7 linked regions of the Homo sapiens genome follow. The protein of the gene in region 1 purifies or fractionates together with the protein of each later gene. This does not show direct contact. Each region holds a gene or a part of one and is shown in the gene's direction. Other genes may lie near its edges. The genes, in order: PTCHD3, ABHD3, ATL2, ABCD4, DNAJC18, VRK2 and TMEM231.

The links.
Region 2: the proteins of PTCHD3 (region 1) and ABHD3 purify together in Homo sapiens (affinity purification with mass spectrometry; one large-scale study listed by BioGRID and IntAct). This does not show direct contact.
Region 3: the proteins of PTCHD3 (region 1) and ATL2 purify together in Homo sapiens (affinity purification with mass spectrometry; one large-scale study listed by BioGRID and IntAct). This does not show direct contact.
Region 4: the proteins of PTCHD3 (region 1) and ABCD4 purify together in Homo sapiens (affinity purification with mass spectrometry; one large-scale study listed by BioGRID and IntAct). This does not show direct contact.
Region 5: the proteins of PTCHD3 (region 1) and DNAJC18 purify together in Homo sapiens (affinity purification with mass spectrometry; one large-scale study listed by BioGRID and IntAct). This does not show direct contact.
Region 6: the proteins of PTCHD3 (region 1) and VRK2 purify together in Homo sapiens (affinity purification with mass spectrometry; one large-scale study listed by BioGRID and IntAct). This does not show direct contact.
Region 7: the proteins of PTCHD3 (region 1) and TMEM231 purify together in Homo sapiens (affinity purification with mass spectrometry; one large-scale study listed by BioGRID and IntAct). This does not show direct contact.

What each region holds. Positions count from the first base shown.
Region 1 is NC_000010.11:27,400,848-27,404,347, reverse strand, and holds part of PTCHD3 (patched domain-containing protein 3), read left to right. Parts: intron 1-990; coding exon 991-1,136; intron 1,137-3,500. UniProt on the Homo sapiens protein: May play a role in sperm development or sperm function. However, does not appear to have an essential role in spermatogenesis or male fertility.
Region 2 is NC_000018.10:21,663,275-21,666,774, reverse strand, and holds part of ABHD3 (phospholipase ABHD3), read left to right. Parts: intron 1-2,544; coding exon 2,545-2,657; exon of another isoform or gene 2,658-3,014; coding exon of another isoform or gene 3,015-3,097; intron 3,098-3,500. UniProt on the Homo sapiens protein: Phospholipase that may play a role in phospholipids remodeling. May selectively cleave myristate (C14)-containing phosphatidylcholines through its predominant phospholipase 1 activity, cleaving preferentially acyl groups in sn1 position.
Region 3 is NC_000002.12:38,367,274-38,370,773, reverse strand, and holds part of ATL2 (atlastin-2), read left to right. Parts: intron 1-3,500. UniProt on the Homo sapiens protein: Atlastin-2 (ATL2) is a membrane-anchored GTPase that mediates the GTP-dependent fusion of endoplasmic reticulum (ER) membranes, maintaining the continuous ER network. It facilitates the formation of three-way junctions where ER tubules intersect.
Region 4 is NC_000014.9:74,289,435-74,292,934, reverse strand, and holds part of ABCD4 (lysosomal cobalamin transporter ABCD4), read left to right. Parts: intron 1-65; coding exon 66-187; intron 188-292; coding exon 293-384; intron 385-558; coding exon 559-648; intron 649-2,435; coding exon 2,436-2,644; intron 2,645-2,816; coding exon 2,817-2,908; intron 2,909-3,415; coding exon 3,416-3,452; intron 3,453-3,500. UniProt on the Homo sapiens protein: Lysosomal membrane protein that transports cobalamin (Vitamin B12) from the lysosomal lumen to the cytosol in an ATP-dependent manner. Targeted by LMBRD1 lysosomal chaperone from the endoplasmic reticulum to the lysosomal membrane.
Region 5 is NC_000005.10:139,409,703-139,412,614, reverse strand, and holds the end of DNAJC18 (dnaJ homolog subfamily C member 18), read left to right. Parts: 3' UTR 1-2,412; downstream 2,413-2,912.
Region 6 is NC_000002.12:58,088,306-58,091,805, forward strand, and holds part of VRK2 (serine/threonine-protein kinase VRK2), read left to right. Parts: intron 1-35; coding exon 36-141; intron 142-1,325; coding exon 1,326-1,418; intron 1,419-3,500. UniProt on the Homo sapiens protein: Serine/threonine kinase that regulates several signal transduction pathways.
Region 7 is NC_000016.10:75,536,241-75,539,252, reverse strand, and holds the end of TMEM231 (transmembrane protein 231), read left to right. Parts: 3' UTR 1-2,512; downstream 2,513-3,012. UniProt on the Homo sapiens protein: Transmembrane component of the tectonic-like complex, a complex localized at the transition zone of primary cilia and acting as a barrier that prevents diffusion of transmembrane proteins between the cilia and plasma membranes.

The sequences.
Region 1 (3,500 bases):
AAAAGTGAAATACAATAACAGTATAGACATTTTATTAAGAAGAAGAATTTTATCTATTTAAATGTGATCTCCCCTGCAGGTCTTCAGTCATGTTCCTGCTGTTTTGAAACCAGTGGCTCCAGTTCTTCAGCTCCTAGACTAAAATTCCAAACTTAGTTTCTCTCCCCTACTAAAATATCTGAATGCAGGTATCAGTCATTTGTTTTGAAGCAATTTCTAACAAGCAAAATCTAAAACCAGAGGTTGTTGCCAATCTTTTAAAAGGTAATGTTATGGTTGCTGAGGAGGTAAAGCACTGAATCATGCTTTAAAATATTTTGTATATAGTCCTGTTTCTGTTGGTTTGCCAAGGAAACAGGCACAGTTTGGGTCATTTAAAATATAGCACATTTTAATTTTTTCCAAATTCGTAGCAACTTTTCCACAGAGCCCACTTCACCAGTAGAGAAGAATCCTGAAAGTAACTTAAAAGACTTTCCTACTTTATGTTAACAACAATACACATTGTACTAACTTTGAAATACAGGAGGCATTTAATGTTGTGTTATGGCTAGTTAGAGACCAGGGATGGATAAAAAGATAATTGGATCTATGTTCTTTCTCTAGTACAGCTTGCTCTTCATTATCTGTTATATTCCATTCACACCCTTCTGAAGATCAGAGTGGAATTAGCCATTAGCAGTGTTTTAGTAATTCTTTGTGGTTCCAAAATGCTAGTCAGTGACTTAGTGCTTGGCTGGCTGCAAAGAATCACATATAGCAGAGTCGGTAGAAGTACAGATTTACAGATTTCTAACTTTTCTGCTCCCTTTCTTTCCTTTTTTTTTTTTCAGTTGTTCTGAGATAGTCCCTGGGAATTAAAGGTCTCCAGCAGATATGTGTGGAAATTACTGTCTTAGAGATTTATGACTAGGTGTCCAAGTCAAGAATGTTATCCATTGATGAAAGCTACCACCACAAATTCCATGATTTTTCCCTCCAAATTTACAGGTTTGACTGCATACGAAACAAAATGTGTGTTGCGGCCTTTGGAGTGATTTCTGCTTTCTTGGCAGTGGTGAGCGGCTTTGGCCTGCTGTTGCACATTGGGGTGCCATTTGTCATCATAGTTGCCAATTCACCATTTCTTATTCTAGGTGAGTAAAACAAAACGGGAGGCTGCACACCGTGTATGTGGTGGGGTAGGGGATATATATAAGGGAAAGAATTGTATTAAGGTGGCTCTACAGTTCAAAAATGAGGTGCCAGGAAACAGGGAAATGAAATTGAACTGGATATCTCTAGAGGTGGAAAGATCGAGTATCCTAATGGAAAAACAGACCATGTACGTGAACAGCAGTTCACATGTAAAAAACAAAATACGCGTCATTAAAAATACAGTCATGTATCACTTAACATTGAGGGTCTGAGAGATGCATCCACAGGCAATTTTAACATCGTGTAAACTTCCTAGAGTGTACTTACACAAACCTAGATTATATTTCCTACAACGCACCTAGGCTATGTGGGCCTCTTGCTCCTAGGCTACAATCCTGTACAGCATGTTACTACGCTGAAAACTATAGGTAACTGTCACACAATGGTAAGTATTTGTATATCTAAATATATCTAAACATAGAAAAGGTACAGTAAAAATATGGTAGAAAATATGAAAAATGGTCCACCTGTATAGGGCACTTATCACGAATGGAGCTTGCAAGACTGGAAGTTGCTTTGGGTGTCAGTGAATGAATGTTGAGTGAACATAAGGTATAGGACATTCCTGTACACTACTGCAGACTTTATAAACACTGGACACTTAAGCTATGCTACATTTATTTAAAAATGTATTTTTCTTTCTTCAATAATAAATTAACCTTAGCTTACTATAATTTCATTATTTTATAAACTTTAAAGTTTCTTTTAAACTTTTTTACTTTTTGTGATAACACAGCTTAAAACACAAACACAATGGACAGCTGTACAATAGTATTTTCTTTCCTTATGTCCTGGTGTAAACAAACGTGTTGCTCTGCCAGTCTTATGAAAGTATAGCACATACAATTATGTACACAACATAATAATAAACAATTGTTACTGCTTTATGTATTCACTATGCTAAATTTTATGTCATTATTTTAGAGTGTACTCTAACTTATGAAAAAAATAGTTAACTGTAAAATAGCTTCATGTAGGTTATTCAGAAAATATTTCAGAAGAAGGCATTGTTATCATAGGAGACAATTCCACGTGTCCTGAAGACCTTCCAGTGGGACAGGATGTGGAGATGGAAGACAGTGATAGCGATGATTCTGACCCTATGTAGGCCTAGACTAATGTGTGTGGTTTTTGGTTTGTTTGTTTGTTTTTTGAGACGGAGTCTCACTCTGTCACCCAGGCTGAAGTGCAGTGGCTCAATCTCAGCTCACTGCAACCTCCGCCTCCCGGGTTCAAGCTGTTCTCCTGCCTCAGCCTCCCGAGTAGCTGGGACTACAGGCATGCACTACTATGCTCATATGTGTTTTTGTATCTTAGTTTTTAATAAAAAGTTTAGAAAGTAAAAAAATAAAATAAAAATAAAGATTTTTTATTTTATTTATTTATTTATTTATTTATTTATTTTTTTGAGACAGAGTCTCGCTCTGTCGCCCAGGCTGGAGTGCAGTGGCGTGATCTTGGCTCACTGCAAGCTCCACCTCCCGGGTTCACGCCGTTCTCCTCCCTCAGCCTCCCGAGTAGCTGGGACTACAGGCGTCCGTCACCACGCCTGGCTAATTTCTTTTTGTATTTTTAGTAGAGACAAGGTTTCACCATATTAGCCAGGATTGTCTCGATCTCCTGACCTCGTGATCCGCCCACCTTGGCCTCCCAAAGTGCTGGGATTACAGGCGTGAGCCACCGTGCCCAGCCATAAATAAAGATTTTTAAAAATAGAAAAAGGCTTATAGATTAAAGATATAAGTAAAGAAAATATTTTGTACAGCTGTCCAATGTTTTTGTATTTTAAGCTGTGTTATCATAAAAAGCCAAAAACTTTTTTAAAAACTTAAAAGTTTATAAAATAATAAAGTTACAGTAAGCTAAGGTTAATTTATTATTGAAGAAAAATATATTTTAAAATAATTTTAAATTTTAAATTTAATAATTTAATTTTAAAATTTAAATTTTAAATTTTAAAAATAACCTAAGTATCTGGTGTTTATAAAGTCTACAGTTATATACAGGAATGTCCTAGGCCTCCCTGCAAACTCTACAAAATGGCTTACATTAAATCAATTATATATATCTTAACTATAGTTATTTATGGCTGTGGGGTACACTGGATGATTAGGTGTGAGTGCATACGAGGAAGGTATGCCTTGAAAAGCTAGAATAAATAAGCTAATATCCAGTACACAACTCACTATCTCCCCCAGAAAACCAAATATTAGTTTTTCCAAGATGCTTACTTTCCAAAATATAAACACCTTTATTTTCTAATGCTTACTAAAATAAATTCTGAGCTTACCAAAAATACAAAG
Region 2 (3,500 bases), on another chromosome or scaffold:
GACATTCACATGAAAACCATGTGTTTAAATGTGTTATATATTGAAGCATGGTCAACTTTACATATTTTAATATTTTAAGTGTCTACTGCAGTGTAGTACAGCTGAGGCTATCTGTATATACATACTATTAGAAAAGAAAATGTTTGGCCAGGCACAGTGGCTCACGCCTGTAATCCCAGCACTGTGGGAAACCAGGGCGGGTAGATCATTTGAGGTCAGGAGTCCCAGACCAGCCTGGCCAACATGGTGAAATCCTGTCTCTACTAAAAATTCAAAAAAAATAGGCCGGGCACGGTGGCTCACACCTGTAATCCTAGCACTTTGGGAGGCCAAGGCGGGCAGATCATGAGGTCAGGAGTTAGAGACCAGCCTGGCCAACATGGTGAAACCCCATCTCTACTAAAAATACAAAAATTAGCCAGGCGTGGTGGTACGTACCTGTAGTCCCAGCTACTCAGGAGACTGAGGCAGGAGAATCGCTTGAACCCGCGAGGCAGAGGTTGCAGTGAGCCAAGATCGCGCCACAGCACTCCATCCTGGCAACAGAGCGAGACTGTGTCTCAAAAATAAAATAAAATAAAGATTAGCTGGTGCACACCTGCAGTCCCAGCTACTCAGGAAGCTAAGGCAGGAGAATTGCTTGAACCCAGGAGGCAGAGGGGTACTAGTGAGCTGAGATTGTGCCACTGCACCCCAGCCTGGGCGACAGAGCAAGAATCCATCTCAAAAAAAATAAATAAAATAAAAATAAATTTAAAAATAAAAGAAAATATTCAGTTAATAAATTAGACCGTAGATTGCTTTATCTAGAGTGAAGACAGCACTAGGAAACCATACTCTTTCATTGGCAGACAGCACTCAAGGTGGAGAAAACAGTTCCCCAGTTAGAAATGAGCTACAATTTAAAATTTTGGGGATTTGGGGTACACTATTGAAAAGCCCCTTTTGCTTTTTTTTTTTTTTGAGATGGAGTCTCACTCTGTCACCCAGACTGGAGTGCAGTGGCGTGATCTCAGCTCACTGCAAGCTCCACCTCCCGGGTTCACGCCATTCTCCTGCCTCAGCCTCCTGAGTAGCTGGGACTACAGCGCCCACCACCACACCTGGCTAATTTTTTGTATTTTTAGTAGAGACAGGGTTTCGCTGTTTTAGCCAGGATCTCCATCTCCTGAGCTCATGATCCACCTGCCTTGGCCTCCCAAAGTGCTGGGATTACAGGTGTGAGCCACTGCGCCTGGCTGCTTGTTTGTTTTTTAATAAATAATGATTTTACTTGGGAGGCCAAGATGGGAGGATTACTTAAACTCAGGAATTTGAGACCAGCCTGGGCAGCATAGCAAGATCCTGTCTCTACAAAAAAATAAAAAATTTGCCAGGCATGGTGGTGCATGCCTATAGTCCCAGCTACTCAGGAGGCTGAAGCAGGAGGAGCACTTGAACAAGGAAGTCGAGGCTACAGTGAGCTGTGATCATACCATTGCACTCCAGCCTAGAAACAGAGCAGGACCATGTCTCAAAAAAATTTTTTTTGGCCAGACGTGGTGGCTCATACCTGTAATCCCAGCACTTTGTGAGGCTGAGGCAGGCGGATCACTTGAGGTCAGGGGTTCAAGATCAGCCTGGTCCACATGGTGAAACCCCATCTCTACTAAAAATGCAAAAATTAGCCGGGCATGGTGGTGGGTGTCTGTAATCCCAGCTACTCAGGGGAGTGAGGCAGGAAAATCATTTGAACCTGGGAGGCAGAGGTTGCAGTGAGCCGAGATCACATCACTGCACTCCAGCCTGGGCAACAGAGCAAAACTCCATCTCAAAAATAATAATATTTTTAAAGTTACTTTGGGCCAGGCACAGGCTCACACCTATAATCCCAACACGTTGGGGGGCCAAAGCAGGTGAATCACTGTAACCCAGGAGTTCAAGACCAACCTGGACAACATAGCAAGACCCCCCTGTCTCTACAAAACATTTTTTTAAAAATCTGTTTGTGGTGGCCTATACCTGTGGTTCCAGCTACTTGGGAGTTTAAGGTCAGAGGATTGCTTGAGCCTGGGAGGTCGAGGCTGCAGTGAGCTGTGATCATGCCACTGCAATCTAGCCTGAGTGACAGTGCAAGACTCTGTCTTTCCAAAACAAACAAAAAAAAAGGTTATTTTGTCTTTGAGGGTACAGGTTGTTTTTTGTTTAATAGAAAGCACAGTTCTCTGCTTTTTTTCCTAAACTGCTCTGGTTAAGTTGGAGACACGTTTGAGTATGGTACTTTGTTTAATTGAAGGTATTTGTATTGGTCTTGCCCCATCTGCATCAAGCCTTCCTTGCATGTTCATGGTCTTTTTGTTAGTGCCAACTCTAACTGTGCTGACTTTAAATGGCATGTATGTGCGCTGCAAGACAGGAAAATGATAAATTATTAATACTACAGTATGTGCAAACAAAGGTTATTTTCTCATATGTATGACTCCTTGCTCCTGTTTACATTTCTGCATTTTACAAATCATTAACCTCACATTGTAATTTTTGTGCTTTACTTGTCACTACTTCCAGACGCCAAGGACTTATTGTTGTGCTAACACTGAAGACTTGGAGACAGTTATTCACCATGTACACAGCCTGTACCCTTCTGCTCCTTTCCTGGCAGCAGGGGTTTCAATGGGAGGGTAAGGTTTTCCCTTTCTAAAATAATCTCTGAGAGGGAAGCTATTTTATTGGCTGTCTCTTTGAGAGGACTATAAGCTAGCTGTATGGACACTTTTTAAATAAATGTCTGATTATGTTTATCATATTTTATTAAATGCGGTTGATTGAATGAACGAAGGAAGGAAAGAATTAATTCAGGTGAATTTTAATATTTTTCTTAACTACGGGTCTCTGTGACTGCGGATTTTGTGAGCCTGAAGGTTTGTCTGAAGCCCATGAAGTCGATTGCATCACTCACCGGCTGCCATGTTGACCTTCTGATTCCTGACGCACTCCCAGCCATCCCTGGAGCTGCGTTCTGAAGCTGAACTTGTAGCATGACTTTCATCACTCCAGTTACAGAAATAATCACTTATTGCTCTCTCCAGCTGCAGTGGCCTTCAAAATTATTTTTCCCCAGGTGGTATTTTGTTTTGTTTTGTTTTGTTGCTGGGCAAATGGAACTACTGTGGAGTGCTCTCCTAGAAACTGAAATTTTGTTAACCCCCTACTCCAGCTGTTATTTTAAGCATACGGATATTGTCATTTGTGCTGCTTGCAATTACTTTGGGGCTTATTTGGAACTTTCCTATTTAGGCTTATTTCTACTAATTGTTTTTGGGGTTTTTTTTTTTGGTTGTTCTAGTGATGGTGAGCTTAAGGAAATCCAAAATTTTTATTATCGGGAATTTTACTAAGCTTTTAGATTCCTGAAGCCATTGTCCAAAACTAGTTTTTTAAATCAGCAAATACTGAAGATAGAAAATGATATTTTTTCATAATTTTATAATTGGTTTATCTGTCATTTCAGTTTTTAGAACATC
Region 3 (3,500 bases), on another chromosome or scaffold:
TTCGTTTTGAGATCGAGTCTTGCTCTGTCACTCAGGCTGGAGTGCAGTGGCACAGTCTTGGCTCACTGCAACCTCCACCTCTGGGTTCAAGAGATTCTTCTGCCCCAGCCTCCCAAGTAGCTGGGACTACAGGCACCCGCTACCACGCCTAATTTTTGTATTTTTTAGTAGAGACGGGTCTTACCACGTTGGTCAGGCTGGTCTCAAACTTCTGACCACAAGTGATCCGCCCGCCTTGGGCTCCCAAAGTGCTGGGATTACAGGCATGAGCCACTGTGCTGGCTGGGTTGATTTTTTTTTTTTTTTTTTTTTTTTTTTTTTTTTTGGGACAGAGTCTCACTCTGTCTCCCAGGCTGGAGCGCAGTGGCGCGATCTTGGCTCACTGTAACCTCCGCCTCCCAGGTTCAAGTGATTCTCTTGCCTTAGCCTCCCGAGCAGCTGAGATTACAGGTGCCCGCCACCGTGCCCGGCTAATTTTTGTATTTTTAGTAGAGACAGACCAGGCTGGTTTCAAACTCCTGACCTCAGGTGATCCACCCACCTCGGCCCCCAAAGTGCTGGGATTACAGGTGTGAGCGACCGCCCGGTCTTGATTTTCTTTCTTTTTTTTTTTTTTTTTTTTTGACGGAGTCTCGCTGTCGCCCAGGTTGGAGTGCAGTGGCGGGATCTCGGCTCACTGCAGGCTCCGCCCCCCGGGGTTCACGCCATTCTTCTGCCTGAGCCTCCCGAGTACCTGGGACTACAGGCGCCCGCCACCTCGCCCGGCTAATTTTTTGTATTTTTTTTAGTAGAGACGGGGTTTCACCGTGTTAGCCAGGATGGTCTCAATCTCCTGACCTCGTGATCCACCTGCCTCGGCTTCCCAAAGTGCTGGGATTACTGGCGTGAGCCACCGCGCCCGGCTTTGATTTTTTTTAATGACAAATCCGAGAGGAGTTTTGACGGGAAAACACCCCTGTTCTTAGAATTTTTTCAAGATGGCTATTAATAGCATCTTCATAAATTGCTGTTTTCTTTTTATCAGCACTTTAATTTTTATTTTTTATTTATGTACTTATTTTTGAGATAGGGTCTCAAATATGCAGCCTCCACCTTCTGGGCTCAAGTGAACCTCCTGCCTTAGTCTCCTGAGTAGCTGGGACTTACAGGTGTGTGCCACCATGCCTGGCTAATTAAAAAAAAAAAATTGGCCGAGCATGGTGGCTCACGACTGTAATCCCAGCACTTTGGGAGGCTAAGGCGGGTGGATGACAAAGTCAGGAGTTCGAGACCAGCCTGACCAACATAGTGAAACCCCGTCTCTACTAAAAAAATTTATTTATTTTTTCTTTGAGACAGAGTCTTACTCTGTCGCCCAGGCTGGAGTGCAGTAGAGCAGTCTCGGCTCACTCTACCTTCTGAGTTCAACTGATTCTCGTGCCTCTGCCTCCCAAGTAGCTGGGATTACAGGCATGTGCCACCACGCCCAGCTAATTTTGTATTTTTAGTAGAGATGGGGGTTTCACTATGTTGGTCAGGCTGGTCTTGAACTCCTGACCTCAGGTGATCCACCCACCTTGGCCTCCCAAAGTGCTGGGATTACAGGTGTGAGGCACTGCACCTGGCCTGACATGTACATTTTCAAGAAAAAGCTAGATCCATTCAGAAAGGTTTTACCCATTTATTCATCAGGGTTAGGTTTGTGCTTGTTTGCAAGTATCTTTGTTCACAGTGGGTGTTAATTAAAAATAAATGCCAACATATAGGTAAAAATGGGCATATTACAGTTTAATTTGCAATTTTTTGATTGTAGTTGATGTTGGAATAGTGATATGGAAATTGAAAATGTGAATTAGTTTATTTACTTTTTTAGAGATGAGGTATCACTATGTTGCCCAGGCTAGTCTCGAACTCCTGGGGTTAAGCGATCCTCCAACCTCCACCTCTCAGTGCTGGGATTACAGGCGTTAGTTACTGTGCCCAGCTCTGACTTCTTTTTATTAATTGCTTTTTAATATTTTTTGAGCATTTCCCAGTATTTCTTTTATTGTTTTGTAAAAGCCTGTTTGCATGCAGGAAATTATTTTTCATATTTGCTTTTTAATTTTGTATTTTTTTGGTGAGAATTGTGTGTGTTGGTTTCTTTCATGTTTTTCTTAAATAAATTGGCAATTTTTTTGAACTTATTAGTGGTAGTCTTAGTCTTTAGGCATGCTATTGGAGTGCTTTTAAAAAGTTGTTATGGCTGGGTGCAGTGGCTCATGCCTGTAATCCCAGCACTTTGGGAGGCCAAGGCGGGCGGATCACCTGAGGTGGGGAGTTCGAGACCAGCCTGACCAACATGGAGAAACCCCGCCTCTACTAAAAATACAAAATTAGCCGGGCGTGGTGGCACATGCCTGTAATCCCAGCTACTAGGGAGGCTGAGGCAGGAGAATCGCTTGAACCTGGGAGGTGGAGGTTGAGGTGAACTGAGATTGCACCATTGCGCTCCAGCCTGGGCAACAAGAGTGAAACTCCGTCTCAAATTAAAAAAAAAAAAAAAAAGTCCTTATTTTAGAGTCCAGGTGCGGTGGCTTACGCCTGTAATGCCAGCACTTTGGGAGGCTGAGGTGGGTGGATCATGAGGTCAGGAGATAGAGGCCATCCTGGCTAACACAGTGAAACCCCATCTCTACTAAAAATACAAAAAATTAGCCGGGCGTGGTGGCAGGCGCCTGTAGTCCCAGCTGTTGGGGAGCCTGAGGCAGGAGAATGGTGTGAACCCGGAAGGTGGAGCTTGCAGTGAGCCGAGATTGCGCCACTGCACTCCAGACTGGGAGAGAGAGCGAGACTCCTCAAAAAAAAAAAAAAGTTGTTTTAGGCCGGGCGTGGTGGTTTACGTTTGTAATCCCAGCACTTTAGGAGGCCAAGGTGGGAGGATCACCTGAGGTCAGAAGTTCGAGACCAGCCCGGACAACATGGTGAAACCCCATCTCTACTAAAAATACAAAAATTAGCTGGGCATGGTGGCAAGCGCCTGTAATCCCAGCTACTCCAGAGGCTGAGGCTGGAGAATCACTTGAACCCTGGAGGCGGAGGTGGCAGTGAGCCGAGATCGCGCCATTGCACTCCAGCCTGGGTGAAAAGAGTGAAACTCCGTCTCAAAAAAAAAAAAAAAGTTGTTTTAAATGGGCGGTTTTTTTTTTTTTTTTTTTTTTGAGATGGATTCTTGCTCTGTTCCCCGGGCTGGAGTGCAGTGGCTCACTGCAAGCTCCGCCTTCCGGGTTCATGGTATTCTCCTGCCTCAGCCTCTGTAGTAACTGGGACTACAGGCGCCCGCCACCATGCCCGGCTAATTTTTTTTTGTATTTTTAATAGAGACGGGGTTTCACCGTGTTAGCCAGGATGTTCTCGATCTCCTGACCTCGTGATCTGCCCGCCTTGGCCTCCCAAAGTGCTGAGATTATAGGCATGAGCCACCGCGCCCGGCCTTAAATTGTTAATCATATATTGATTGTTTATTCGTATCTCTTTTTATT
Region 4 (3,500 bases), on another chromosome or scaffold:
AGGGTTGTGTCCGCTGTAGGGCATGTGGATGGTTCCTGGGTGTCTCACAGATGTGTTTTCTACAGTCGGCATCAACACCTTTGACTATCTGGGCAGCATCCTGAGTTACGTTGTCATCGCAATCCCCATTTTCAGCGGGGTCTATGGAGACCTGAGTCCCGCAGAGCTTAGCACCCTGGTCAGCAAGGTGAGACTCCCTCTTGGTCACCCCACATGCTGTCCCTCTCTGTCCTTGGCCCAGTGTCTGTGGGCTCGAGTCGAGACCTGCTTGACCTCTTCCCATCCTGTCCAGAATGCCTTTGTGTGCATCTACCTCATCAGCTGCTTCACCCAGCTCATCGACCTGTCCACGACGCTCTCAGATGTGGCTGGCTACACGCACAGGTGAGGCCGTGTCCCACCCCTCTGGCTCCTGAGCAAAGTGTGTGCTGCTGGCAGAAGTGGCTGAGTGAAAAAAGGAACAGAGACATACCATGTACTCGTGGGTGTGAGATAGGAAAAGGAGTTCACCTTCACCTGGCTCCCAGACCCTGCCTCAGATTTTCTTTTCTTGTTCAGAATTGGGCAGCTTCGGGAGACGCTTCTGGACATGTCCCTGAAGTCACAGGACTGCGAGATCCTGGGCGAGAGCGAGTGGGGCTTGGACACGTGAGTAGCGGGCTGGCAGAGCAGTAGTTGAGGCTGCAGGCTGTGGCATCACCTGGCTTGGGTTACCCTGGAGTCCTGCCCTTTCCCAGCTGGGCAGCAGAGTTGTAAGGAGTAAATGGAAATGGAATGCCAGGCACATGTAAGTTCACAGTCGATGTTGCTGTTCCGGCATCTGTTGTGTTAATTTACACCATTCCCCGGCCAGTGGAAGCAAAGTACACACACCTTCTGCCTGAGATAACAGGAATCTGCAGTGTCCTCCCCTTCCTGTGCTTCCTCCTCCCGCTGATTCCTCTCCCTGCCCCTTTCCTTGGGGCATGTCTGTCTTTGTTCCCCCACCTCACTCAGCCCCAGAGATGTCTGTATCCGTGTGTCTGCGTGGATCTGTAATATTTCTGTGCATTCAGGATTTGCTTGATCTCCACACTTTCCTTGGGCAGATTACCTAACTGTTCTGTTTCTTCATGTCTGAAAAGGAGGTCATAATGAACTTCCTTCACTTGTTGTAGGGATTAGATATCATCATCCATGGAAAGTGCTTGGACAGTGGCCACATCATAAGCTTTCAAAAATCAGTCTGAATTCCAGGGCCTACACTCAACTTGCTTTTCTTAGGAGCTAATACCTTAACTGTTGCTTCTGTTCCAAATGAAAGCTTCATGCAACCATGAGTGCAGAGGCTGGGCATGAAGGAGGGTCTGTAGGAAACTGGAATTGCTGTTCTGTGGGGAGCCAGGCATCCATGCAGAGGCAGAAACTCCAGAACCATTTAGCTTTAACCACTCCCATTCTTGTTATTAGTACTCTGGTCACACTGTGATGCCATGAAGACCCACCAGCATTAGAATTTGTTGAATACCGCTCTGCAACCTGGGCAGTTACTTAGCCACCTGATTCTTAGTGTCCTCATCTGTGATGATATTTGAGACTCATGGGCATTAGACTGAGTAAGATCAGTCCCATAAGGGGCTTTGTCCAGCCAGGCAGAGAGTAGAAGTTCCACCCCTACCCCTGTATTAATGTGCTCAGGCTGCCATGACAGAAAACCACAAACCGGCTGGCTTAAACAATAGAAATTAATTTCCTCACAATTCTGGATGCTTATGGTCCACGATCAAGTTGTCAGCAGGGTTGGTTTCTTAGGCCACTCCTTGGCTTGTAGATGGCCACCTTGTTGCTGTGTCCTCACGTGGCCTTTCCTTTATATGTGCGTGCCCCTGCCACCTCTATCTTAAGAGGACACCAGTCATATTGGATTAGGGTCCCACCCCAACAACTTCATGTTAACATCATCTCTTTAAAGACCCTGCCTCCAGCTGGGCACGGAAGCTCACGTCTATAATCCCACCACTTTGGGAGGCTGAGGTGGGCAGATCACCTGAGGTCACAAGTTCGAGACCAGACTGGCCAACATAGTGAAACCCTGTCTCTACTAAAAATATGGGCACGGTGGTGGGCACCTGTAATCCAGCTACTCAGGAGGCTGGGACAGGAAAATCGCTTGAACCCAGGAGGCGGAGGTTGCAGTGAGCTGAGATAGCTCCACTGCACTCAAGCCTGGGTGACAGCAAGACTTTCTCTCAAAAAAAAAAAAAAAAAAAAAGACCCTGCCTCCGAATGCAGTTACATTCTGAGTCACTAGGGGGCTGGACTTCAGCATGTGATTTTGGGAGGATGCAAGTCAGCCCATAATAATCCACAGGTGGTGGCTCCCGGGAGCAGTGCCTCCCCCACAGCAATACTGACCCTGCCCATCTTCCTCACGCCCCCTCTCTTCTCTGACACAGACCCCCAGGGTGGCCAGCGGCAGAGCCAGCAGACACAGCATTTCTCCTTGAGCGGGTCTCCATCTCTGCCCCCTCCTCTGACAAACCCCTAATCAAGGATCTGAGCCTAAAGATCTCCGAGGGACAGAGCCTGCTCATCACAGGCAACACGGGCACTGGCAAGACCTCCTTGCTCCGGGTTCTGGGTGGCCTCTGGACGAGTACACGGGGTGAGAGCCAGGCCCTCCCTGCCTCTGACCCAGCCTGGGCCCTAGGGGTGGGGTGAAGGCGGGGACGGTGTGGTAGAATCCATTCTTTTCTGTTGGGGAACAAGGAAGAGAGGAGACAGGCAGTTGCCTCTTCTGGGAGATCTCACAATGGAGGTTTCTGTGGGCTCTGCAGGCTCAGTGCAGATGCTGACGGACTTTGGGCCCCATGGGGTGCTATTCCTGCCACAAAAGCCATTCTTCACTGACGGGACCCTTCGGGAGCAGGTCAGTCTAGTTCAGGGGGCTCACTCCTCCCTCCTCAACCCCGCCCACCCACAGCTGGGACCTCTGGCACTGTGACAAGTCTCAGGTCCTAGAGTCAGGGCAAAAGGTGAGGTGGTGAAGTGGCCCGGGCCTGGGAACTGCTGGCTCTAAGAACCTTCTATTCACATCCATGGATTGGGCCCACTACTCATAGCAGCTCCTGAGGCAGGTAAATGGGGCAAGGACTCACGCCAAATACCACACGCGTATGTCAAACACCCAAGGTCGGATTCTGGGGCCCCTGCCCTCAGGAGGCTGTCAGACTGTTCCCCCTAAACACACTTCTGAAGGTTGTAGGGACCTTGCCCTGCTGTCTGCCGGCCAGAGCCTCTCCCATCTGACCCAGGCCAGGCGTTCCCACCTCTCCTCCTTGGGAGGTTCCAGTGGGTTCTGGAGGGAGGGTGGGCTGTGTGCAGCTCCGTCTTTTGCTCGCCCTCCTAGGTTGGTGTGGTTTTTTTCTTTTCTCAGGTGATATATCCCCTGAAGGAGGTCTACCCCGACTCAGGTGAGCTGGTCCTCCTTAGGTCATGTCCTCTCCTTCTGTCATGGTTGT
Region 5 (2,912 bases), on another chromosome or scaffold:
AGCCTACACTCCATGCTTCCTTCATATTGGAAGAAAAGTTTCTGGTAGAGAGTCGGCCGGGTGCACTGGCTCAAGCCTGTAATCCCAGCACTTTGGGAGGCTGTGGCAGGTGGATCACCTGAGGTCAGGAGTTCAAGACCAGCCTGGCCAACACAGTGAAACCCCATCTCTACTAATAATACAAAAATTAGCCAGGTGTGGTGGCACATGCCTGTAGTCCCAGCTACTCGGGAGGCTGAGGCATGAGAATCGCTGCAACTTGCAAGGTGGAGGTTACAGTGAGCTGAAATCACGCCACTGCACTCCACTCCATCTCAAAAAAAAAAAGAGTCTACATTAAACAGATTCCAAAGTAAAGTTTCTTCATCCCAATGCATGGCCATGATTTACACAGACGTGCCTAGCATGGCTCATCAACATCTGAACGGTTGTTCCCTACCATGCCTCTGCAGGCATTCCACAGAGTCAGGAGATGGGTTCACAGGTAAAGATTGGGGGCTTTAGTGGCTTGTAGGGGACAACTGCTCAGTTGCAGGGAGAGGGAGCATTTCTAGAAATAGCCAGATTTTGCTGCCCAACTAGATCTGTCCTCCTGGTTTTAGGGGGCCCTTCTTGATCCCCTCTGAGTGACTGAGGGAGGTTACATTGTAAAATATGTCCATGAGCCAAACAGGCTTATGGAAAGTTCTTCTACACACAAAAAAATCAAAGCTCTCCTCTCCCCATCCCCAACCACTGCTAGAAAATTGGCCATAATGAAACTGACTTGACAGGTTAAAAGACCCTGTCCTAGATGCCCAGGAATCAGGTAGTCACACATTTTATGGACTTCATGGCAGCGATAAGTAATCTGTGATGATACTAAATAGAAGCAATAATAACTAACTCCATTAAATGTCACGCTGATTGTCTGTTTTTATAGCACCGATGGTACTGTTTTATTTATTGCCAATAGACCACAACATTCACATCTGTTTTTCCTCAAGGGAACCGTATTTGCTTTTGGTTGAAGGATTTATCTATTTGATACTATCCAGAATATTGTGAAGCTATAATTTCCTGGGTTATATTTTAGATGGGTTGTCTGCATGGTGGTAAAATAAGCTTTTTCCTCTCGCCTACGTCCTTTGGAAGATCTCCTGATCATACATAACTAGGTAGGGCTTATTCTTGCTGCCGGAGCTTGGCACCCAGCTCTAGACTGTTTCTTTGAGCATTACTGCAGATTGGAGACGTGTGTGAGAGGAGCAGCGCTCAGAAATAGGGCTTGAGGCTCAAGCAGAAACTGAAGCTCTCATTCAAATGAAGATGCTCTCTCTACCGCACGATCGGCAGTGAGAAAAGGAGGATGAAAATCCTTCTCATCACAAAGAGCTTGAAGGAACCCACGTCCCCAGATTAGCAACCCTAGAGTTCATCTGCTCAGGCCGGGAAATGTGTAAGCTTCCTTGATCAGCTCCAGGCCTCACAGCACGGGAGCAGTGACCAGTAAGGAAACGTCACTGCTGTGCTTTCTGTTGGAAATTGTTCGAAAATACAGTGAACTGGCCAGGCCCAGTAGCTCATGCCTGTAATCCCAGCACTTTGAAAGGCTGAGGCAGGCAGATCATTTGAGGTCAGGAGTTCCAGACCAGCCTGGCCAACATGGTGAAACCCTGTCTGTACTAAAAATACAAAAATTAGGCGGGCATGGTAGCACGTGTCTGTAATCCCAGCTCCTCAGGAGGCTGAGGCAGAAGAATCTCTTGAGCCTGGGAGGCAGAGGTTGCAGTAAGCTGAGATCACATCATTGCACTCCAGCCTGGGTGACAGAGCAAGACTCTGTCTCAAAAAAAAAAAAAGAAAGAAAAAAGAAAATACAGTGAACTCCAGATGCCACTGGAACATGGGTTCCAGCAGCCTGGCCAAGCTATGTGTCATTCTTTTTCCTCATGATACCCAGGATGGGCTTTGTGAGGAGGCACTGTGCCGTTCCAGTGGCTTTCTGTTACAGCTGGCCACACCATACAAGCAAGTACATCATCTGCATGCACTGCTCCTCACAGGAGCTTGCACTTCATTCATATTTATTCTGCCCTCATTTAAGGTATAAGCTTAGTGTCCTAATATATTTATTTTTGGAAAGGGCCAAGTTACAAAACATCTTTTTTTTGAGGCTGCACTGTTGATATGTCATGCAGTGGCCACCAAGAAAGTATATACTCGTGTTAGATACTGATTACATCATTTACATCACGCTCAGTATTTGGAATTAAAGATGTGAATGTTCTGTGACCAGAGTAGGGATGACACAAATGGAATCAGCTCCTGGTGGACTAAGAATCTTGAAAAAATCTGGCCACCTCATCCACTACATCTGGATTGAGTGTACTGCAACAAAGAAAAACATTAAACAATTTTATATTAAAAGAATGGCTACTTTTCCTTGGTTCTTTTACCTTTGCCCATGGCATCCTTGGCCACTGCACATCGCCTGACTCCCTTGGAGCCACTTCCGACTAAAGAAGCTTTTGACGCCTGCTCCAGTCTTCCCTCACCCGTCAGTGGGATTATTTGCATTTAGAATAGTAGATAGCATTGTTGGCATCAGTTCCACATTTTCTATCAGATAACAGCAGCTGCAGTACCTCACAGCCAATATACAGATCAAAACTACACTTAGCATCAGAAATTCAGGTGTTATCCCAGTTCCTTGCTGGCTTTGGTCCTAGTGGCCCATATTTAGGAAAGTTTTGGTTTAAAAATATAGTAAATGATATTTACATGATCCTAACTGGTCATGATAGCTTTCATTTGAAAAAGAAAGTGAGATGAGATTCAATTCAGCAATGATTGAGAACTTACTCTGAGCCAGGTGGGCTGGGTTTTTGGAATGGGGGTCAGGGAACAGGTGAGGCCCAGCACCAAGACTC
Region 6 (3,500 bases), on another chromosome or scaffold:
CAGGATGATCTCTTTTTGATGCTTTTTTCTTACAGTTACAGATTTATGGTAATGGAAAGACTAGGAATAGATTTACAGAAGATCTCAGGCCAGAATGGTACCTTTAAAAAGTCAACTGTCCTGCAATTAGGTATCCGAATGGTAAGAATTACTTATTTCGCATGCTCCATTTCCAAATTGTTTACTTCTTGCAATATAGAAATCTTTTCCCTTTGTGGAATTATTAGAGAATGAAGGATTATTGCCCTAGAGACATCAGTTATTAGGAGTAGAGGCTATTTTGGTGAAATTGATAACAATGGGCTCTGTAAGTGACAGAATGTGCTGTGTATGGCACTGCAAACTCAATTAGGCTTTGGTTCTCCAGTCTGATCTTCTTTTTCCTTAGAGCTTTGTTTTACATACCAGAACAAGCTTTCATTGCTGTAAGAATAACCTTTCTTTTGTCAGTTATAACAATGCAAATTATGGCAAAATATATTGTCAGACATTTTAAACATGTGATGGTAGGGGGGTGCTATGAAGTTTTTATTATGAGTTTGGGATGGTGGCAATAATTAGTTGTGACAATGAATAAAATATACTTTGCCAAAGCAGAAGCAACGAACTCTTAATAGCACTCAGGCACACATTTGTTTATACTACATATTTGTCTTATATGTTTGTATTTGGTTTGTTTAAGTCTCATTTTTTCACTTTTGAGTAGCATGAAGCTGCTTATGCCAGATTGGAATGCAGCAAATAGAATGCATTAATTTTCTCATTTATCCATCCTCGAAGCCAGCAAATGTTTATTGAGTACTAAGTGTATGTAACATGCAAGGCTGAAGGGCTTTAGAGATGAAGCTAAGGAGTTTTCTATTACCATACAGAGGAAGAATACCTTTCCCTTTGCTCATGGACATGGCATTTTGTTCTGAGATTCTCAAGGCTTGATTTATAATTATTGCTTAGGTGAGGAATTGCTGAGTGGGCTTCAAGATTATTTCACCATAGATCTCTGATTTTATGCTATGTTTTTCCTCTTTGTGCAGTGCGGTTTGGCTACTGGGCTATCAGGAATTAGGCATAAGCATTTTTGAATCTTGATTTTCTTCCTTTGGAACTTCAACTAAAATACTTGATTTTTGAGGATCATTTTACTTTTTTCTAGGATGAGCAACCAGAAGATGTGATATTTTAGAATAATTAACCAGTAATTGTGAAATACATCGCTTTGTCAATGTTAATATGAAAAAACCCATGTTATTCTATATTCAAAATGTTGAAATTGATCATGAGTTCTAAATAGCAGTAAACCTTATTTTATCTATTTATTTTCACAGTTGGATGTACTGGAATATATACATGAAAATGAATATGTTCATGGTGATATAAAAGCAGCAAATCTACTTTTGGGTTACAAAAATCCAGACCAGGTAAATACATACTTTTGCTTTTAATAAAGGTCTTTAATGTATGAAACTGAAACATTCAGAAAACAAACTTCTAACCCAGAAGAGTTTACAAATGAGGGCGTAACATGATGAATGTTGTAATTTATCTTACCTGCTTATCTAATTTAATCTTTGTACCAAACTAATGAGTAATTAGGATGAGAAACTGAGAGTCAGAGGGGTTAAATAATATGTTAATGGGCACACAGTTAAGAAGTGGCTGAGCAGGAATTTGAATTTCTGAGCAAATATAGATAAGCAAAGAACCATCAAAATCCAGTGGGAGTAGAGATGGATTTATGTAGAGGTTAAAACACTGTCATATTAGTTCATCATTTCCTACTGTATAACCAATTAAGTTTTAAGCAGAGAGGCCGGGCGCGGTGGCTCATGCCTGTAATCCCAGCACTTTGAGAGGCCGAGGTGAGTGGATCACCTGAGGACAGGAGTTTGAGACCAGCCTGGCCAACATGGTGAAACCCTGTCTCTACTAAAAATACAAAAATTAGCTGGGTGTGGTGGTGGGTGCCTGTAATCCCAGCTACTCAGGAGGCTGAGGCAGGAGAATTGCTTGAACCCAGGAGGCGGATGTTGCAGTGAGCTGAGATGGTGCCATTGCACTCCATCCAGCCTGGGCAACAAGAGAGAAACTCCATCTCAAAAAAAAAAAAAAAAAAAAAGTTTTAAGCAAGCTTTTCCATTAAAATTTTGTGTAATGATGAAAATATTCTGTTTGACTGTCCAATATGGTAGCCATTAGCAGTATGTGGCTAAGTACTTAAAACGTGGTCAGTACAGTACCAACTGCTGATGAGTATTTGGAGTAACAGGAACTCTCATTTGTTGCTCATGGAAATTTGTTGCTAATGGAAATGCAAAATGATACAGCCACTTTGGAAGACAGTTGGGCAGTTACTTAGAAAGCTAGACACTCTTAACATACCAAGCAGCAGTTGTGCTCATTAGTATTTACCCAAATGAGTTGAAAACTTACATCCACACAAAAACCTGCACGTGAATGCTTGTAGTCGGTTTATTCATACTCGTCAAAACATTGAAGTAACCAAGATGTCTTTGAGTAGGTGAATGGATAAACTGATACATCCAGATAATGGAATATTATTCATTGCTAAATAGAAATGAACTTTTCAGCCATGAAAAAACATGGAAGAAACCTAAATGTATTTTACTATGTAAAAGAAGCCAATCTGAAAAGGCTAGTTACTATACAATTTCAACTATATGACATTCTGGAAAAGGCAAAACTATAGAGACAGTAAAAAGATCAATTTTTTACTATCTCCATAGGTTAGAAGGGAGAGGAAGGATGAATGAGTGAAGCACAGTGGATTTTTAGGTCAGTGAAACTATTCTGCATGATACCATAATGGTGAATACATGTCATCATTTGGTTGTTAAGATCCATAGAATGGACAAGACCAAGAGTGAACATAATGTAAACTGTGGCTTTTGGATGATAAGGATTGTCATTCTTGGTTCATTCACTATAAAAAATGTGCTACTCTAGTGAGGGATGTTGATAGCGGAGAGACTTTGTGTGGGCTTGAGGTATATGGGAACTCACTGTATTTTCCACTCAGTTTTACCTACATTGCTCTAAATTTACCTAAATCAAACCTAAAACTTCTCTAAAAAATATAGTCTGTTTAAAAAATGTAGATTATATTTTTAATATTAAAATATTAATATTGACAAACTGAATTTTTAATTTAACTTAATTTAAACTTAAATAACAATATACCTAGTTGTTACTGTATTATCACGTTTAAAGAGTTAAATGATTGAGTCTATAAAAAATTAGAAAAAATGTAATTGAATATTTGATCTCTGCATTGGTTAAATTTCTTAATAAAAATTTTTTCAAAATGAAAGGTGAATGAGAAACTGGGAAATAGATAGATAACAAATATTTGAGAATATCTAGCCGGTACTAAAAAAAAAATTAAGAAAAACACTAAATACCTTGTTAAAGCGATGATCGAAAAGAATGAATAAACAGAACAGAGAAGGAATATGACTGTCCTAGAAACAGGAAAAAAGGCT
Region 7 (3,012 bases), on another chromosome or scaffold:
TTTCATTCTCAGCCCCCTCAGCAGCACTGGGGGAAGAAAGCATTGTCACAACAGGTTCTTTCTGGCCCTCACCCAACAGCCTGGGCACTTGGCCCTCCTCCTCCTTGACAGCCCTCCCCCTTCCTGCAAAGGACAGGGGCGACAGGGGTTGGTGTTGGGATTGGCTCCCGCTGCCTGACAACCACAAGTTTATTTGGAAGGCTAGCGGGAAGCCCAGCGGCTGGCGTTTCCCTTGACTAAGGAACAGGGTGCCCATCAGAGTGGGGCGGGCAGCTTTGGGAAGGACACAAGAAGCAGTAAGAGTGTAAAGAGGATGCTGGCCTGGGCAGGCCAGTCCAGCCTGGCCACTAGCAGAATACCAAGCAGTCCAGTGGATTACCCTCGTGGCTAAGCAAGTGTCTGCAGGAGCAGAGATGGCTGGAAGGGGCCTCTGCACACGGAAGATGGCTTGTTCAGCCCATTCACCTCCTGAGGATGTGGGCAGTCTCCTCCAAGAACACATGGAGCTGCTTCCTGATCCCAAGCAGGTCATTGCCACTGGAAGGACATGGCCCCGGTGATCCATGCTTCATGCCCACCCAGAAACACACCCCTCAGTGTGTGCCTCAGTTTACTTTGGAGATCAGTTGTCGTTTTTAGTGCTCCTTTAGGCTTACTAAAACAGTTTTGGAAACAAAGCTATTTTGAAGTATTCAAGCAGAGGAATTCCCTAACACTGACCCCCTTGTCTTTTTTTAATATTCAGGCTGTTTTATATGCCTAAATTTTTTTCTTAAGATCTAAACGAAAAATAGTTTCTTGTTTAAATTCACATAAGGCAATGAGATATGGAAAGATGACAAGATACGTATAAACATTGGTTTGCATTTTATTAAATTATTCTAATGCAAATCTTGTATAAAGAACCCATGATGTTTTGTAACTTTCTAATTAAAATGTTCAAAATGAGGCCGAGCATGGTGGTTCATTCCTGTAATCTCAACACTTTGGGAGGCCAAGGTGGGAGGATCACTTGAGCCCAGGAGCTTGAGGCTGCAGTGTGCTATGATTGCACCACTGTACTGTAGCCTGGGTGACAGAGTGAGACCCTATCTGTTAAAATAAATAAATAAATAAATAAAAAAGTCAAAATGGAAGATCACATGTACCTTTTTCGAGGGAAAGGGTTTGGAATGGCAAAGAATAGGGAGGGCAGAGGTTGCACACACCTGTCTTTATTACTCATCTACAGCCATGCTTTACAAGGCTCTGCCTAACGACCTTGGAACTTCCATGAGGTCTTTGGTGAAAGTCCCCTAGTTCTTCCCCAGGTAGATGAGTTTTCAGTGGGATTCACATGCCATGTGAAATCTACGTGTTGGATAATTATGACTGTGTCTGGTGAATATGAAATTATTTACAGACCAGATGTTGATAGTTTCTGACTCTGAATCACAGCATAGCTGCAAGAGGTAAATAAAAAGCAAGAGGCCGGGAGCGGTGGCTCACGCCTGTAATCCCAGCACTTTGGGAGGCCGAGGTGGGTGAATCACAAGGTCAGGAGATCGAGACCATCCTGGCCAACATGGTGAAACCCCATCTCCACTAAAAATACAAAAATTGGCTGGGTGTGGCGACACGTGCCTGTCATCCCAACTATTTAGTAGGCTGAGGCAGGAGAATCGCTTGAACCCTGGAGGCGGAGGTTGCAGTGAGCCGAGATTGCGCCACTGCACTCCAGCCTGGCAACAGAGCTAGACTCCGTCTCAAAAAAAAAAAAAAAAAGAAATATAGAGGATTTTATTAACTCAGCTCCGACCCATAGCTAAGTTAAGGTTTGATGTTATTACTGAATATTTGGAGGCAGAAAGACTCCTGATTTTGCCAAATGATTAGTACAGTTTCGGCTTAAGTCAGATGAGGCCCCCCTAATATTCCATCATGTAAGGCTAATAAAGCAATTATTTCTTTTTTTTTTTTCCTTCCAACTTTTATTGTAGACTCATGGGGTATATGTATGGGTTTCGTATATAGCTAAATTGTACAACCTGGGGGTTTGGTGTACAGATTATTTCATCACCCACGTAATAAGCATAGTACCCAGTAGGTGGTTTTTCTTTTCTTTTTCTTTTTCTTTTTTTTTTTTTTTTTTGAGACAGAGTCTCACTCTGTTACCCAGGCTGGAGTGCAGCAGCATGATCTCAGCTCATTGCAGCCTCTACCTCCCAGGTTCAAGTGATTCTCCTGCCTTACCCTCCCGAGTAGCTGGGATTACGGGTGCCCACCACCATGCCCGGCTAATTTTTGTGTTTTTAGTAGAGACAGGGCTTCACCCTGGTGGTCAGGCTGGTCTCGAACTCCTGACCTCAAGTGATCCATCCGCTTTGGCCACCCAAAGTGCTGGGATCACAGCAGTTTGATCACAGAAGTTATTATGGTTGGCATTCTGGCACACATCTTTCTAATCTTTTTTGTTGTATGTAACCTTTTTAGTATCACAAACAACACTTTTATAAACCTTGTGTAGAAATCATTGTTGCTGGTTTATTTCCTTAAGATACATTCAGAAAACTTATGACCATTGTTAAGGATCTTAATTCATTGCCAAACCACAGCCAGGAAAGACTGCTAATTTCTACTCCCAGCAGCAGGGACTCCTCGTTTCAGATACCACCATGGATTAAAGGACCTCCCAATGCTCTATCCTTTTCAGATTACTGGACTCTGCCCGTTTGTTTCTTTGTTTTTGAGATGGAGTCTCGCTTTGTCACCCAGTCTGGAGTGCAATGGCCCCATCTCCGCTCACTGCAGCCTCCACCTCCGGGGTTCAAGCTATTCTCCTGTCTCAGCCTACCTAGTAGCTGGGATTACAGGCATGTGCTACCATGCGCGGCTAAATTTTGTATTTTCAGTAGAGATGGGGTTTTGCCACGTTGACCAGGCTGGTCTTGAACTCCTGACCTCAAGTGATCTGCCTGCCTTGCCTCCCAAAGTGCCGGGATTACAGTCATATGCCACCAGGCCAGGCTGAGC